Homo sapiens: one gene and its partner. The protein of the gene in region 1 interacts with the protein of each later gene in a biochemical or structural test. Each region holds a gene or a part of one and is shown in the gene's direction. Other genes may lie near its edges.

What was found.
Region 2: the proteins of PLIN3 (region 1) and RAB9A form a complex in vitro, tested with the Homo sapiens proteins (one study listed by BioGRID).

What each region holds. Positions count from the first base shown.
Region 1 is NC_000019.10:4,854,049-4,857,870, reverse strand, and holds part of PLIN3 (perilipin-3), read left to right. Parts: intron 1-3,822. UniProt on the Homo sapiens protein: Structural component of lipid droplets, which is required for the formation and maintenance of lipid storage droplets. Required for the transport of mannose 6-phosphate receptors (MPR) from endosomes to the trans-Golgi network.
Region 2 is NC_000023.11:13,705,848-13,708,607, forward strand, and holds part of RAB9A (ras-related protein Rab-9A), read left to right. Parts: intron 1-2,760. UniProt on the Homo sapiens protein: The small GTPases Rab are key regulators of intracellular membrane trafficking, from the formation of transport vesicles to their fusion with membranes.

The sequences.
Region 1 (3,822 bases):
CCGAGTGGCTGGGATTACAGACATGTGCCACCACACCTGGCCAATTTTTGTATTTTTAGTAGAGATGGGGTTTTACCATGTTGGTCAGGCTGGTCTCGAGCTCCCGACCTCAGGTGATCCACCTGCCTTGGCCTCCCAAAGTGTTGGGATTACAGACATGAGCCACCAGGCCCAGCCTGGGTCCCACTTTCTTTTCTACAGAATGGCAATGCTGACCTGGGGTTAACACCTGAAGGCCCAGAACAGCACATGGCTTGTAGCAAATGTTGGCTCTTAACATTAAAAAAAAAAATTTTTTTTTTGAGACAGGTTCTCACTCTGTCACCCAGGGTGGGGTGCAGTAGTGTGATCATGGCTCAACTGCAGCCTTGAACTCCTGGGCTCAAGTGATCCTCCCATCTCAGCTTCCCAAGTAGCTGGGACCACAGGCATGCACCACCATGCCTGGCTATTTTTAATTTTTTGTAGAGACGAGTTTTCACCATGTTGCCCAGGCTGTTCTCAGACTCCTGGGCTCAACAGATCCTCCTGCCTCAGCCTCCTGAGTAGCTGGGACTAGGTGCATCCACCACGCCTGGCTAATTTTTGTACTTTTTGTCAAGACGGAGTCTCGCCATATTGCCCAGGCCGGTCTCCAACTCTTGGGCTCAAGCAATCCTCCTGCCTCAGCCCCACAAAGTGCTAGAATTATAGGAGTGTGCCACTGTGCCCTACCTCAGTTTCCCTTAATCACCGCTTTTTAAAGACCCTGTCTCTAAATACAGCCACATTCTTACCCCTGGGGATCAGGACTTCAACATAAGAATTTGGGGTTGAGGGGGCCATAATTCAACCTATAACAGCCTGGGATGAAAAAATGAGGCACAGACCAGGCGTGGTGGCTCACGCCTTACTCCCAGCACTTTGGGAGGCCGAAGCGTGCAGATCACTTGAGATCAGGAGTACGAGACCAGCCTGGCCAACATGGTGAAACCCTGTGTCTACTAAAAATTCAAAAATCAGCCAGGCGTGATGGTGAGTTCCTATAATCTCAGCTACTCGGGAGGCTGAGGCACGAGTATCACTTGAACCTGGGAGGCAAGAGGTTGCAGTGAGCCGAGATCGTGCCACCACGCTCCAGCCTGGGCAACAGAGCAAGGCTCTGTCTCAAAAAAAAAAAAAAAAACACCCTCCTTCAGATAAGTGTGAGGCTTAATCGGTTATTGTTTGTCTCCCCAGCTGGGACCAGGGCACAGGCTGCCTGCTTTGTGGCTGTGTCCAGTGCCCAGCAGGCAGCCTGGCACAGGGTAGATGCTTATTTTTTTAGTTTTTTGAGACAGAGTGTTGCTCTTGTTGCCCAGGCTGGAGTGCAATGGTGCGATCTCGGCTCACTGCAACCTCCGCCTCTCGGGCTCAAGCGATTCTCCTGCCTCAGCCTCCCGAGTAGCTGGGATTACAGGCATGCACCACCATGCCTGGGTAATTTTATCTTTTTAGTAGAGATGGGGTTTCTCCATGTTGGTCAGGCTGGTCTCGAACTCCCAACCTCAGGTGATCTGCCTGCCTCGGCCTCCCAAAGTGCTGGGATTACAGGTGTGAGCCACCGCGCCCTGCAGATAGATGCTTATTAAGTATTCAGGTGCTCCATGTCCGCTTCAGCCCAGTGGTTACAGAAGGGCCACCCTCGGGTACCACCTGCTTGTGTCTGGGTCTGTAGCATCAGAAATAGGTGATCCCTGGGTTGGAGGCAGGACAAGCCAGCCGCATCCCAGCATCCTTGGACTTTCCCTGAGACCACCTGCAGGGACAGGCAGCTTATTCATCCACTTGCTATTGAGTGCCTACTGTATGCCGGGGAGCTGTGCTGTCCCATCATGGTTAGACTTCCTCACCTCCCATTTATGCAGAAATGGCCTTAGCTGGGAAACAGCAGAGCGGTTGTCAACTTGCATTTTTTTTTTTTTTTTGAGACAAGGTCTTGCTCTGTAGCCCAAGCTAGAGTGCAGTGGCGTGATCTTGGCTCACTACAGCCTTGACCTCCTAGACTTAGGCAATCCTCCCAGCTCTCAGCCTCCTGAGAAGCTGGGACTACAGGTGTGCACCACCACACCTGACTAATTTTTTAATTTTTTGTAGGAATGGGGTCTTGCTATATTGCCCAGGCTGGTCTCAAACTCCCAGGCTAGCCAGGCACGGTGGCTCACGCCTGTAATCCCAGCACTTTGGGAGGCCGAGGCGGGCGGATCACGAGATCAGAACAACAGAGCGAGACTCCATCTCAGAAACAAAACAAAAAACAAACTCCTGGGCTCAAGCAATCCTCCTGCCTGCCTTGGCTTCCCAAAGTGCTGGGATTATAGTTGTGAGCCACTATGCCCAGCCATGCCTACACCTTATCAGCAAAGGCCAATAGTGGGCTTGGCTGAGGGGGGATGGAAACTGCTGAGCTTACAGGAAGATGGGAAACGTCAACCAGGAGCCCCCGTCTCAGGGCCAAGCCCTTGCTTCCCTTTCTCTCCCACTGATAGCGTAGGAGGCCAACAGTCTTTCTGTTTATAGAAGGGATAAGCTCAGGGTGAATTCTTCAAGGTCACTGAACAGAGCAGCAGCTGGGAGCTTTTTTTTTTTTTTTTTTTTTTTTTCAGATGGAGTCTCGTTCTGTTGCCCAGGCTGGAATGCAGTGGCGTGATCTCAGCCCACTGCAACCTCTGCCTCCTGGGTTCAAGTGATCCTCCTGCCTCAGCCTCCCAAGTAGCTGGGATTATAGGCGCCCATCACTACGCCCAGCAAATTTTTGTATTTTTAGTAGAGATGGGGTTTCACCATGTTGGCCAGGCTGGTCTCGAACTCCTGACCTCAGGTGATCCAGCTGCCTTGGCCTCCCAAAGTGCTGGGATTATAGGCGTGAGTCACCGTGCCCGGCCAATTTTTGTATTTTTTGTAGAGGTGAGGTCTTACTATGTTGCCCAGGCTGTTCTCACACTTCTGGGCCCAAGCGATCCTCCCACCTCAGCCTCCCAAAGTGCCGGGATGACAGGTGTGAGCCACCGTGCCTGGCCTGCTGTGAGCTCTTGACTTTTTGAGAGGTGCAATGCTCTCTCAATTCTGGGCCCTATGAGTTTTTTCCCCCTTTGTGAAGAGGTAACTTTCCCCAGGTTCTGGGGGACGGTGGTGTTGTCAGAGCTAGATTTTAATCCGGGCCAGTGTGAGAACGTGCGTGTTCACTGAGTAGTGGGGCTGTTAGAACCTGACTCTCATCGGGGGCGTTGGCTCATGCTGGCTCACACAGTGAAACCCCGTCTCTACTAAAAATACAAAAAATTAGCCGGCCGTGGCAGTGCACGCCTGTAGTCCCAGCTGCTGGGGAGGCTGAGGCAGGAGAACCGCTTGAACCTGGGAGGTGGAGGTTGCGGTGAGCCGAGATAGTGCCACTGCACTCCAGCCTGGGTGACAAGAGCAAAAACTCTGTAAAAAAAAACAAAAACAAAAACAAAAAACTTGACTCTCACACCCTCTTCCCCCACAAAAAGATGAACTCTCATGAGTACAAGAGGACTGAGTCTTCAGGGAAGCACCAACTTGGGTAGGAATGGGGCAGGTGTGGTTTTCAACTTTGCGGAGAGCCCTCTGCATAGAGATCTGTCTAAAGACTTAGCTTCAGCTGGACACAGTGGCTCATGTCGGTCATCCCAGCACTTTGGGAGGCCAAAGCAGGAGGACTGCTTGAGGCCAGGAGTTCGAAACCAGCCTGGGCAACATGGAGAGTCCTTGTCTCTACAAAAAATAAAAAAATAAGCCGGGTGTGGTGGTGCGTACCTGTAGTCTCAGCTACTTGGGAGGCTG
Region 2 (2,760 bases), on another chromosome or scaffold:
GCAAGGAGCAGCATATGCCAGGGTGGAGGCAAGAGGGTGTGGGGTGTGCTGAGTGAGTGGAATTGAATTTTAGTTCCGGGTGATGGTGCATTCAGAATGACTGAAGCAGAGACTGTGAGGGGAAGGTGGCTAGAGTGAGGCTGGCCAAGAGCAGGGGCCAGGTGTCTTGCCTTAGAAGTTGGACTTAGTCCTGGATCTCTGGGAAACAACCCGCTGAAGAATTCTGAGGAGACATTAGATAGATGGTTCCCCTATGTCAAAATAGTTGGTTTGCTTTTATGGTTTTCAATCTTTTCTTTTTAAGTTGTTGAAGCAAGATGCCAAAGAATTAAAGCAGCCAATTTAGCACATTGTTACCTATGTCAGGAAAGTAAGGGGCTTGGGACTGTTGCAGTTTCCTCTTTAACATTAATAGTCTGGATATTGAGCAATACATTTGAAATTGAAAAAGTCTCTCAAAAGGTATGCACCTTAACTGCCACACACTTGTGTTGGACAGTTTAAATTGTATTAATATTAATTATAGTAGTAATTACTGTAGTATTAATTTGTTTTGTTTTTTGAGATGGAGTCTTGCTTTGTCACCTAGGCTGGAGTGCAGTGGTGCAATCTCAGCTCACGGCAACCTACGCCTCCCAGGTTCAAGGGATTCTCCTGCCTCAGCCTAGTACCTGGGACTACAGGCGCTTGCCACCACGTCCAGCTAATTTTTTTTTTTTTTTTGTATTTTTAGTAGAGACGGGGTTTCACCATGTTGGCCAGGCTGGTCTCGAACTCCTGACCTCAAGTGACCTGCCCGCCTCAGCCTCCCCAAGTGCTGGGATTACAGGTGTGAGCCATCGTGCCTGGCCTGTAGTAGTAATTTGAAAGAACCAGTAAGAGGTAGGGACTAAGGTATGTCCCATCATTTTTTAATAGTATTTCCCATTCACTTGATTTCTCACTATACAAGCCACTACAAGGTTTTTATCAGAACAGTGGAGCATGTGGCTAGAAGTGCAGAATTCCTACATGTTACAGTAAGTGTTCAGTTACACTATAGTTGCTCACATTGCATATAACCAGGAGACAGCCAGATAATGTTTACTGCAGTGATTTTACAAATTCATCCTGGTCAATATAACAATTATTGTTCATGTCTTTATTGCCTTCCCATGGAGGGATTCATAATACCTACTTTCCTATTAAGGTTATTGACCAAATTTGCTCTAGATCTGTGCTCTCCAATTGGCTCATTAAATGTGGCTATTTATTTAAAATTGAATAAAATTTAAAATGCGGTTTTTCACTTCCATCAGCCTCATGTCAAGTGTTCCACAGTCACATGCGGCTAAGTGGCTGCTATATTGGACATTTCCATTGTTGCATAAAATTCTCTTGTACAGTGCTGCTCTAATAGTTATCTTCTTATATACATTTTAGTATACTTAAAAACCATTTAATACTAAAGTACAGATTAAATGATATAATCTGATTCGAAATAACTGGGGAGAAGGGAGAGTTGGAGGGGTTATGGAGGAAACAAGATTTGCCATAAGTTGATAATTGTGAAGCTGGGTTTAGAGTTCATGGGAGCTCATTGTATTGTACTCATTATATAGAAATTTTGTACATGTTTTACATTTTTCACAATAAAAATGTAAGCAGAAGGATTAACCAGGAACTGTGCTCCCACCAGCACCTAGAAGTAGCTGTCTGTCAACGGGCATCTGAAATCTCACCCCCCACAGGCTGGCTCTTGTAGTGTAGTAAAGTTTTTAATCCTGCCACAGGACTTCTAAAGAACACATATAGTACCACATTTTCATTTAAGGTTTATTTCATTCTACCTGAAAACACACAAGTAGCAGCAGTCTCATGTTCCTTAAGTGTTTGAACTGCCCAAGTGAATCTTGTGGATAGAATGTGCTAGATTATATTAAAAATTCCATTGCTGCTGACATTAATTTGAACAAATTCAAAATAATGTTCTTAATGAAGAGAATAAAGTCCATTTACTCAGTGGTTGGTTCATACTTTATTTCACAGCCAGGTAAGTCAGTTTCTGTCTCTGGCTTTCCTGGTTAACAGCACCTGTGTCTGAAGAGAGGTGGAGGGAGTAGTAGAGAAAGTCCCTGGTAGGAGAGAGGCCTTAAGTGAACACCATCACTGTGCACTGAAGGGCTGTTTGAAGTTGTTAAGAGAAACATGTGGGCTGGGCATGGTGTCTCACGCCTGTAGTCCCAGCACTTTGGGAGGCCAAGACAGGTGGATTGCTTGGGCCCAGGAGTTTGAAGCCAGCCTGGGCAACGTGGTTGAGACCCTGTCTCTACAAAAAAATAGAAAAATTAGCAAGGCATGGTGGTGTGCACCTGTGATTTCAGCTACTTGGGAGGCTGAGGTGGGAGGATTGCTTGAGCCTGGGAGTTCAAGGCTGCAGTAAGCCAAGATGGTCCCATGCACTCCAACCTGGGTGACAGCGAGATCCTGTCTCAAAAAAAAAAACAAAACCAAAACAACAACAACAACAACATGCGAACTTTGGTCTCCTACCCATCTCTAACAAATGGTGGGGCTTACTATGAGCAGAGAGGGGCTTATCATAGAGTAACGGTTCAGAGCAAGGGCTTTGGGGTCAGACTTGGGCTTGAGTGCCAGCTTCACAGTCAACTGTGACCTGAGAAAAGGGAAGAGTGAGCCCTTCCCAGCTGTTTCAGAGAATAATGGTAGAATAGTAGCCTGCACATGGCTAAGTGCTCAGTAAACAACAAGTCTTATTAT